Linked DNA regions of Homo sapiens: region 2 is linked to region 1. Evidence: fine-mapped expression QTL. A gene starts in region 1. The other region holds a variant in brackets. All regions are shown on one strand. Distances are between the middles of the regions. Region 1 holds the start of RNASEH2B-AS1 (RNASEH2B antisense RNA 1). Region 2 overlaps RNASEH2B-AS1 (RNASEH2B antisense RNA 1).

Region 1 (5,501 bases):
ACAATTCGTAAGTTTTAAATTGTACAGTGTTCTGAGTGGTGTGAAGAAATCTTGCACCATCCAGCTTCGTCCTGCAAAGGACCTGAATTCTACCTTTGTCCAGCGGATCCACACTGCAGAAGGTCCCCTCCTTATGAGTCACTTAGTAGCTGCAAGAGTAGTGATGCTGGCATACTGTGAGAATTGTTCTATTTTATTATTATTGTTGTTCATCTCTTACTGGGCCTAATTTTCAAATTAAACTTTATCACAGATATACATGCAAAGGAAAAAACAGTATATTAGGGTTTGGTACTATTTGCGGTTTTAGGCCTTCACTGGGGGTTTTGGATCCCATCCTACAGGAATAATGGGGTGCTCCTGTAGCTGTTAGTAAGACGATGGTGTGCCTGGGGATTTGTGCTATACACCACAGCATCTTCTACAGTCGTTTTGGGGGAGAGGGAAGATCAGAGCAGTACCAATCTGCTGCTCCTTGCCCCAAAACTGGCAAGAGGCGCCTTTCCTCAGCCAGAAAGGCCTCTTCTCCACCAGCTGTGTCCTGCAATCAACTGCAGCTGTATTGGTCTCACCCCATGGGAAACAGGTTTGAAGTTAAAAACCTTTTCAGAGGGCCGAGATAAATTTAGTGCTGCTAAATTTAACTATCTTCAAGATTAAACATGAAAAGCAAAGTGCATGAGTTATGTATATTATTCTTTCAATTGTGCAAAAATAAGACATTAACTTGTTTTTGCATGGAAAAATTCTGCAAGAATAGAGAAGAAATGTTAACAGTTACCCCTGGGATCTGGGATAAAAGAGATACATCATGCTTTTCTTTAAAAAAAAAAAAAATAGGTTTTTGTGGATTTTTTTGTTTTTGTTTTTTTTGACAGAGTCCAGCTCTGTAGCCCAGGCCAGAGTGCAGTGGTGGGATCTCGGTTCACTGCAACCTCCATCTCCTGGGTTCAAGTGATTCTTGTGCCTCAGCCTCCGTAGTAGCTGGGATTACAGATGTGCACCACCACACCCAGCTAATTTTTGTATTTTCAGTAGAGACGGAGTTTCACCTTGTTGGTCAGGCTGGTCTCCAGCTCCTGACCTCAGGCGATCCGCCCGCCTCGGCCTCCCAAAGTGCTGGGATTACAGGCCTGAGCCACTGCGCCTGGCCCGTGCTTTTCTCTAAAGTATGAAAGGAATATGTACTTTCTTCTTAAAAACCATGTACCAAACAACACTTTTCAATTAAAATGTTATTTTTAAAAGTTTAAATCCCCAAATTTCATGGCTCTAACTTTTTAAACATCACTTTTTAAATAAATGTCTAAGTTTTTAACTCAGTATACAGCGTTCTCCAAAACAACAAATTCATATTCTGAGCCCAAAACTGTGCACCTCTTTTAGTGATGAGGACGGAGTCCAAATTGAGGACATCCCTTGTAGCTCACAATGCACACATATTCTCACATCAATAGCAACACAGAATGCAACTGATGACCAATATATATTCACAAATAATTGAGGACCATGGCTAAGAGTTGCATTCGGATTCCGATGTGACTGCTATTGTCCTTAACACGGACTAGCTCCAGGTGAGTCCCCCGGCCCCGGGGGTGTGGCGGGCGTCACCCGTTGTCCGGGCACACACCCCGCAGACCCAATCCTAGCCCGCTGGCTAGACCATGGAGGGCCGCTGGGTGCAGCCACAGAGCGCGGGGCCCCGGCGACCCCGCCCCGCTCCGCGTCACTCGGCGCCCTGCGGCGCGCGATGAGCACCTACCACTAGCGGAGCCGCGAGGGAGAGGCCGCGGCCCCTTCCCGTTGCCTGCGGCCACCGGCCGGCATTCAGAGCCCCTCGCCTGGCGCTAAATTTAAAAACGTAACACGAGCAGCAGGCTGGTCTCGGAAACGAAACGAAATTCGGTCCCTGGGCCTCCTCCCGGGCGCTGCCGGTCCCTCAGCGCGCCGCGCCACCCGGAACAGACCCTTCTCCCGCCATTTTCGGCGGGGCTGGGAGACTGAGGCCCGCGGCGCTGAGCCTGCGGCGCCCCGGAAGAGGCGGGCGGCATGGCCGCTGGCGTGGACTGCGGGGACGGGGTTGGCGCCCGGCAGCACGTGTTCCTGGTTTCAGGTAAACACGCGCGCCCGGGCGGCGGGGTCGGCCCAAGAACTGGCGGAGCGGCCCGCGACCCCGGGCGCGCCGCCCCCCACCCCGGTGGCTCCCACTACCCGGCCCGGCGCGGGATGGGATTCTCTCTGGGACAGCTGGCCCCGCATTTTGGTCACACGTCATAGCAAGCCGCGGTTTTCAAACCCGGAAGCGCCGAAAAGGACCGAGCGTGTTTCCCGGGCCCTGATCCCCGGTGGCTCGGGTGGGAGGGTGGAAGCCGACTCAGCCTGAGGGGAGCCACGCGGGTTCGCGGTCACCGGTGCGCTGCGGGCCCCGGAGGTTTCTGCCCTTGGTGTCCCCTACCTGGCAGCTGGCCCTGCTTCTGTGATCCTACTGGGTTGGAACCAGGGATCCAGTAGGCTCGAAGTGGCCTCAGACGGTGCGCAGTTTTAAGAAAGCAAAGGGACAGGCCTGCAGTGGCGAGGCAGGAGGGAAGCGGGATGGGAGTCGCGGTTAGGCCAAGGGTAGTTCAAAGCGATTCAGCAGGATGATGACCACAGGAGTGCTGGAGCCGGGCCTTTCAGCCCCCGTGTGGATGATGACCGGCCATCCAGGACATGCGAGGGCTTGGGACAGTGGACAGCCAGTGCCACACAAGGAAGGACCGATTAAATGACACAGTTAAAGGAATTTGGCCTAGGGAGTGCAAGCCAGAAAGGTTTGGTCTTTTTATATATGTAACATTGGAAAAAAGGAACATCTCCTGTTCCCTGTATTAAGTTTTGACTTTAGCTCAGCAAATGCAGTGTTTGTGGCAGTAAATATACTCTGATAACAATATTCTTTCCCAGGAATTTAGAGTTTTATGATGGTTATTGAAAATGTTTACATGACAGGCTGTCAATAATATTTTTTGCCTCTAAAAATAAAACATACATAAAGTGTACGGATTTTAAGTATGCAACTCACTGAACTTTTCATACGTATACACCACCCTAGTAACCATCCCCCAGTTCAAGATGTAGACTGTTTCCAATAACGCCTCATGCCTGTTCCTAGATAGCCCCAGGAACCTCTATGCTGACCTCTGTCACCAGAGATTAGTTTTGCCTGTTTGAATAAGAGTGTACCCTTTGTGTCTGGCTTCTTTCACTCTGAAAGATTCATCCTTGTTGTGAAATTCATTCATGTTGTAGCAGTTGTTTGGTTGGTTGGTTAGTTTTTTCATTGCTGCTTCTGTTTAATTGTATGAGTATCCATACTATGTATCTCTACTGTGGATGGACATTTGGGTTGTTTCCAGTTTGCAACTATTACAAGTTACACTTCTCAGAGCATTCCTTTAGGCGGCTTTTGGTAGACATGGGCACTCATATCTCTAGGGTGTATACCCTGGAGTGGAATGGCTGGTTCTAGTACTTGTGTGTAGAGCTGTAGTTGACAATGTTAAATGGTTTTCCAAAGTGGTTATACTGATTTATATTCCCACAAGCAGTGTATGAGAGTTCCCATTGCTGCACATCCTCGGTAAAAACGTTTGGGTGGTAAAACAGCTAATGCAAAATTCAGGGTTTTGACAGAATCTCGCAAAGGGCTACCCGTATACATGCTTTTCATTAGAAAAATCATCCTTTCTTCTCACTTCGTCACATCAAGACAATTAGATTTTCAGAGTAGGAACTCTAATCATTCTTTCAGAATCAAGTGCATTATTGTTATTTCAGATATACACAATAGCTGATGATAATTTGAGCTTCTTATTTTGTTGTTCTGTTTAATCAGTATTGACATCGTCATTTTATACGTGTGTTTGTGTCCTTGTATTAAACACAAAACCCTCAAAAGAATTAAATATTGATTGTATCCCTGAAAATTGTAGGTTTTAATATATCTACTGCTGGGTTGTGGGAAGAGTTTCAGTTGAGTTTCTGTTCAGAGCTGAGATCTACTGTGACCTTTTAAGGCATTGGGGGAGGCTGAGCAGCTGTTGGAACTGCTAGAAAGAGCTGTGTGGTCAGGGGGGCAGGAACTCTTAACAGTTAAAAACTTGAGCTACCAGCTCCTGCAATTCTTCCTTCTGGCCTTTAGCGCCACCTGCAGGCTCTGAGGGTACAACAAGGTTTGACAGCGACTGCAGTGCAACACTAGTTCTCAAACTTGAGGGCATCATTTACCTGGGGAGCTGGGCCTCAGTTCCCAGAGGTGCTGGTTCAGTAGGTCCTGGGCTGGGGCCAGAGAATGTGCATTGGTAACAAGTTCCCAAGAGATACTGATGCTGCTGGTCCGGAAACCACTGCCCCCACCCCAGGAACCACTGCAGTAAAGACTTTGGGAACTAGATTGGGATATAAGAATGACAAGCCTCATGTTTGGCCCTCTTTGTGGTGGGCCAGAATTTATATGGTCAAGGAAGTGCATGTAAGTGCAGAGTGTGAGGCTCATCTTCCCAGATGTAGTTGTCGTCTTTTCCAGAAGATGAGAAATCAGCCTGCTTAGTTACCCATTCGGGAGTTGGAAACGATATGCCCTTGGCTGAGGGAGCACCATACTCCAGTAAAGCTGGGCCCTTAATAAAGAAAACAAAGATTATTAAACATTTTTCAAAAGTATTTGGCGGAGGCGGCTTGTATTCGGTTTTAGAAAACTTGGGATCTGAAGAACTTACTTTGTGTACTGAAAAGTGAGCACATGAACCCACAGGCCAACAGAACTTTAAAGGGATTTATCCGTGAGACAAGGGTAAAGATGCCTAACCTTGCAATGATACTTTTTTCCAACATTTAATTCATGCTGTTCATCGAGTTGCCTGCCACAGCACTGTGTTATATCTTGAAGGATATATTTAAATGTTTGATTTAGGTATCTTTGCCTCTAGTTTTCAGTTTGTTTGGAGAAGCTGGCTATCTCAGATAAACAAATCTGGAACTTGGAAGAGATACTGTGAGATATGCAGACTTGGGACGTTGGTTTTCATAGGCTGGTGAAGACAGAACCATTTCCCATTTCAGCAAGGCAAGCATTTCTTTTAGTTTGGGATGGTCTTAAATGTTTCTGTAAAATGGCCTGGGAATACTAGCCTGTTTGCAGTTTTAATTTCTATAAGAGGCCATTACTTTACTTTTTGGAAAGTAGTATAAGTTTCCATCCCTCTTTTTCTGCCCTAAAAGTAAATGTTTGAGTCATATTTTTAATGTTTTTCTTAAGTCCATTTTTCTTGTTAATGCTACTAAGTTGGGATGTACCCAGGTGTGAGAGGTCACCTGATTCATTGCGTTTAGAAGACTGCATTTATTGCTGTTGGGGGCTGAACAATTAATTGGGTTCATCTCCAAGGAAATGTTAATTGGGAAACCCTAACATTGTGTATTGAAAAAAAAAAAAAGAAGAAAAATCATTTCAGGCCTGTTAA
Region 2 (5,230 bases), 21 kb before region 1:
TAGATGACAACACTTAACCCTTGATCAGTGTTAACAGTACTAAAAATGGGACCACGAGACCTCATGTGCCGCCTGATGGAATGCAATCGGAAACACGCGATAGTACCTATGGAGTATTTGCCAAAATAAATGCATCTGAATCTAAGCAAGCTTCACACTCAGGCAGCAAGCTCATGAAAAATACAAAGGAACAAGTTATTAGATTAATGGGTTGAATGAGAATGCGATCAGCAAAATCTGGCATGCCGGAAGTTCTACAGGACAAATGAACCAATGTCTTCAACAAACAAAAAAACGGCTAAAAATGGGGAAGTGGGAACTTTCATAGATTAGAAAATACCTAAGAGACATTTCAACCAAATGCAATTTGTGGACTTTACTCTGTGATTTCAACAGGACTGTAAAATATATTTGAGAAAATTGGGGACATTTGAACACGGACTGCGTAATAGGTGAAATAATAGAATTAATGTTAATTTTGTCAGGTATGATAATGGAATGGTGGGTTTGTGGTTTTTAAAAATGCTCATCTGTTCGATTTATATACTACTGACTTAATTATGGATAAAACAATATGACATCAAAAAAGGTGAATAATAGATAAAGCAAGATGGACAACTGGGGCTGGACCTGTGCTTGGTGGGTCCTTGGTGTACCTGGTGGGTCCTGAGCACCACCCCGGTGGTTCTAGGTGTGCCCTGTCAAATTCCTGAAAACTCCTCTTATAAATGTGCAAATATTTATAATCAGTTTTTTTTTTTTAATAAAAAGAGTCTAACATTCTATGGCGACATTATGTGTAAAAAAATTCCTTTGGATCAGTTATGTGAAATATTTTTTAAAAACCAAGAAAAATGTTAAAAATTGTTGAATTTGAATATTGTGTCAATGGGGTTCATTATACTGTCTTTCTACTTTTGGATGTTTGAGAATTTCCTTAATAGAACAATTTTGAAAGTCTAGGAATACTAAGAGATATTAGAAAATTAAAAGCAACAGTCTAAGACTGATTTTCAAGGTGTTTTGTTTTGGGTTAAAGACAATTTCTTTTAAAAGGCAATTATGGACAAGTCAAATATGCACAACAGATACATTTGGAACTACCTGACTGTGATGGAGTCACTCTTCTCTCCTCTGCCCCCAGAGATACAGCACATACAGTTTGAAGTTAGTTCAATTAAGGTAACAATTTTCATTGTCTACTAAGTCAACGACTCTCGGTCTTTTGGAATATGCTGGATGCTTTCTAGTGTTTACTAGAATACTTGAGTAGTAAATACTTTCTAGTATTTACTAGAACTTGGAGTAGCACAATTCAAAGGATTCAGTGAATTAAGAATATACCAATCAACAATAATTGCACTACAGCTGACTAACAATATCTCCTGGTATCCATAAAAGACATTGCCAATGAATACACTATTTGGTTTCCCTATCACAGTGTCACAGTGTCAAACAGTTTGTACTCAAACAACTTGAGTACAATTCTTTACTGTTCTGACTGCCTGTCTCTTATGTTTATGGCAAAGTCCCAGTGTGTTCCAGTCATTTCTTACTTTCCCTGTTACTTGACATTACCTCTTTCTCAGTGACTCTCTTCAACACAGCGTCACATAACATGATCATTCCAGTCATCTACACTGAACAAAAAGTTCAAAATGGGAGCAAACATAACCTTTACACATTGATAAAAATATGGTATCATTAATAGTCCATTAATTGGATGTTATGCTAATAGGTTTGATCATCTGAAAGCTATATACCTGGATTTATCTCCCCAGATACACCTTATTTATCATCCTAAATACACCATGAAGACCTAAAAGAAATATGAGGTAATATGCTCTAAATATAATTTTTGATATAAGATATGACAGAATAAAAATTGTTTGCATCTTTTTTGAAAATCACTATGGAAGATGTTGTCCACTGAATGACTCCTGTAAACCTATTTAAGTATCATAGTAGAGTTTACACATAGGAAAATGATTGCTTCCTTTTGTTTATAAATGATCTGTTTCTCTATGTTACCTTGACTTTCACATACGTGAGAGCTAAACTGAAGCTACCATAATTAATTTAGGTTCTCTTACACAACGAACCCTGCTCATTTCCATCCCATCCAGCTTTATTTAATGATTCTATTGATGTATCTGTTGTGGACATATTTTATTTTGTCCCCCCAGCCCAAACACTCCCTCTTCTGATAGCAGCAGCACCTTCTTTTAGATAAACCCTTCTCCCCACCTGTCCCAACTCCAACCTTGTCGTTTTAGTAATGCAGTCAACCTCTGCCTTCTGCCACTCTCAGACCATTGCCATGGTCTTTGCTGAAGGCCAGAGTCTTTGACCAGCATTATTTCAAATTGAAATCAAGGAACTAATGAAGGAGGCATCTTCTTGACCAGTGATAAGCCAGATGACCACAACCTCCAAGGTGTGAAAGAATGTGACACAGAAAGACAGACCAGAGTCTGAGACAGCTACTTTCAGCACCTGGTACTATTTCCTCCCAAACCAGATACATCCCTGCCCATTCAAGGGTTAGGTTACCTGAGCCAATAAGTGTTCCTCATGACTCCAGTGAGTTTCTGATTGGGTTTCTGTCACTTGCAATCAATATTACCCTGCCTAATACAGAGTACTTCATTGTGAGCTGTCTCAAGTCTTTTGCAGAAGCCTGCAGAGGAGACAGAATAAAGTAAGGCCATTTATTTAATAATTTATTTACTTCTTTATTTCATATAACTGGTTTATTTCCAAAGTTTATTTGCAATATGTTGAATGAATAGATAGATATTGGCTCCAT[T/C]AGAAGGCCATCTTGAGCCTGGGCAACATAGGGAGACCCTCTCTCTACAAAAAAATTTAAAGAAAAAATTAGCTGGGTGTGGTGGCACATGCCTATAGTCCTAGCTACTCAGGAGGGTGAGGTGGAAAGATTGCTTGAGCCTGGGAGGTTGAGGCTGCAGTGAGCCGTGTTCATGTCACTGCATTCTAGCCCAGGCAAAAAAAAAAAAAAAAAAAAAAGCCATCTTGGCCATCTTCAGGAAGTAATATCCAAGAACTTCAATTACATTATTTTTTAAGGTAATTGTGCTTCAACCTTCAACACACTCAACTCCTCTAGGCTCCCCGGATTCTCTGGAGGCCCATGTAATGATATAGTTCTAGACTGGCAATTTAGTATATCTAGAAGTGCTGCCTTTCATAGATAAAAGGAACATTTGAGGCCATGCAAGTAAACTCATCAGTTCCTGTATGACATACGGAAACCCAGAAGTGTTAAGCCATCTGCCTAATATCACACAGCTCTCCATCACATCCCAAACCTGAATCAGATCCCAAACCTGAATCTAGCTCTTCTGATACCCAGCTCAGTGACTTTTCCACTGCACCATGCCCCCAAAGTCCTTTTCAGGACAGACATTAAAAAAGAAATAGACTTTGCTTTTCTTTGTAAAGCCATTGAGGCAGTTCTTCAGTTTCGTTGCAAGGAAAAATGGATCTTGCTCATGCAATGAAAAGTCTTGCAGTTTGAGAGGCTACTGTATGGGAGGACTGCCTAATGAGGGTCCTCAGAGCAGACTGCGGTGCAATAACACTGGGGTACGATAAGCTGGGGAGAGAGCATTCTGGGTCTGGCTTAAAGGGGTCCACAAGGGCCCTTAACTTCCCTTAGTTTTCTGACTTTTCTAAGTATACTTTTTTGCTAAGTGAATATAATAATAGTAATAATAACACCTATTGTATTTTACCAATCTCCTACAGTTATAGGAAGGATCAAAAGAAACGTGTGTAAAAGTACCTGGTAAAGAGGGAAGTGAATATTCTGTCATAGTACCAAAAATTTCCCGTTTGGGTCATCAGACAGTCTGAGATTCTGTTTTGTCTTTTCTAAGAACACTCCATGCCTATTCCAACCTTCCAGCCTTCCCTTGCCTGGAATGCGTTTTCCCTTTTCCTCCATGTCATGAAACCCTCTGCATCCTTTAAACACACTTTCTTTGCTAAAGTGCCTTTCTTGAGGGCTTTGCTCTGAATCCCTTCAGTGGAGTTTGTGGATCACTGTTGCACTCTGCTTTCTCTGGTCATTGCTTTGGGCTCTTTCTCTCTGGCTAGACTGTAAACCCCTTAAGCCAAGAACACTATTTTATATGCCCTCTCCTCCCAGAGTACATTAAAAAAGCAGTGGGTGCCAGTAGGCAGATGCTTCTTGAGTAGCTTAATAATCCCCAAGACAGCTCTTACTTGCTTGCAAAAGGCAATTGTGCACATCCCTTGCCAACTTTGGGTTCAGCAATGTCAGATGGATGGCTTGAAATTGGCAGAGCTCAGAGTATTTACACCACAGAAATTGGCAGATGCCACAGATGGTTTTTCTTTTTTCCCTGAGAGCCAGCTGTTAGCATTGACCAGCAGCCCATGCACTAAGGCAGATATAACATAGGTCTGCAACAGAGAAGAGAACATAGCTCTTAAAACAGGAGTCACAGCTGGTATAGCTCCACAGGAGAAGGTGGAACAAGCCTTATAAAGGATGCCCACAATCAAATTAGAGCTCCACAAATCTAAGTAACTAGAAAAAAAGCTGCAAGACCTTTCTACTTTAATACCAGTGATCTCATGTTTTTCTCAAGAGTATTATTAAAAAGGTGATAGACACGTGGAAATGGGAGAGGTAAGGGTGTTTTATCATTATTGTCAGGGGTGTAGAAACAAAAGCTTTAAAATTCTTTAAAATATATTTGAGGGGGAATACAATGGCTTGACAAAGCTTTATAATTACATAATTAATTATGGGGTGAAATGTGATTGCAGGGCCTTTGTATTTAAGTCTCATTCAGCATTCATGGCATCGAGAATTTTCTCCACTTTGCTATAAAAAGGATTTTGTTCTGAACAAAGAGAAAGAGAGAGCTGATATAATGTCATGCTTGGTGCAAATGGCAGCATAAGAAAGCAGAAGGTTGAGGTGACCAGCCAGGGGTGACCAGAAAAAAAGTGGGGTGGGGTGGGATGATCCACAAGCTTTCCTATTAGTTTTTTTTAAAATCCTTTTTCTTAATGTAAATTACCCACTGCATAAAACAGTATAACATTAGACATTTCTGATTTAAGGAATAGGATTAACGTAAATCTTATATTCCACTTATATGAATCAATAACTTTAGAAGAGATTATTTGCAAAATATCTGCCTGTAATCTCCTAGCATCTTCACTGCTGTGCACA

Evidence for each region.
Region 2: its variant is fine-mapped to the expression of RNASEH2B-AS1 in whole blood (TOPMed, PIP above 0.99).

Annotation. Positions count from the first base shown.
Region 1 is chr13:50,908,028-50,913,528 of GRCh38, forward strand. It overlaps RNASEH2B-AS1 (RNASEH2B antisense RNA 1), which reads right to left and starts at 2,685. Exons shown (of 3, transcript NR_046552.1): 1 at 2,456-2,685. It overlaps RNASEH2B (ribonuclease H2 subunit B), which reads left to right and starts at 1,764. Exons shown (of 11, transcript NM_024570.4): 1 at 1,764-2,113. The coding sequence starts at 2,050. RefSeq lists silencers at 1,579-2,008, 2,019-2,258, 2,469-2,518.
Region 2 is chr13:50,887,056-50,892,285 of GRCh38, forward strand. RNASEH2B-AS1 (RNASEH2B antisense RNA 1) reads right to left here. Exons shown (of 3, transcript NR_046552.1): 2 at 2,554-2,680. Among named protein-coding and RNA genes, the nearest start is that of RNASEH2B, 20 kb to the right of the region's middle. The variant T/C (reference allele first, on the strand shown) is at 2,810.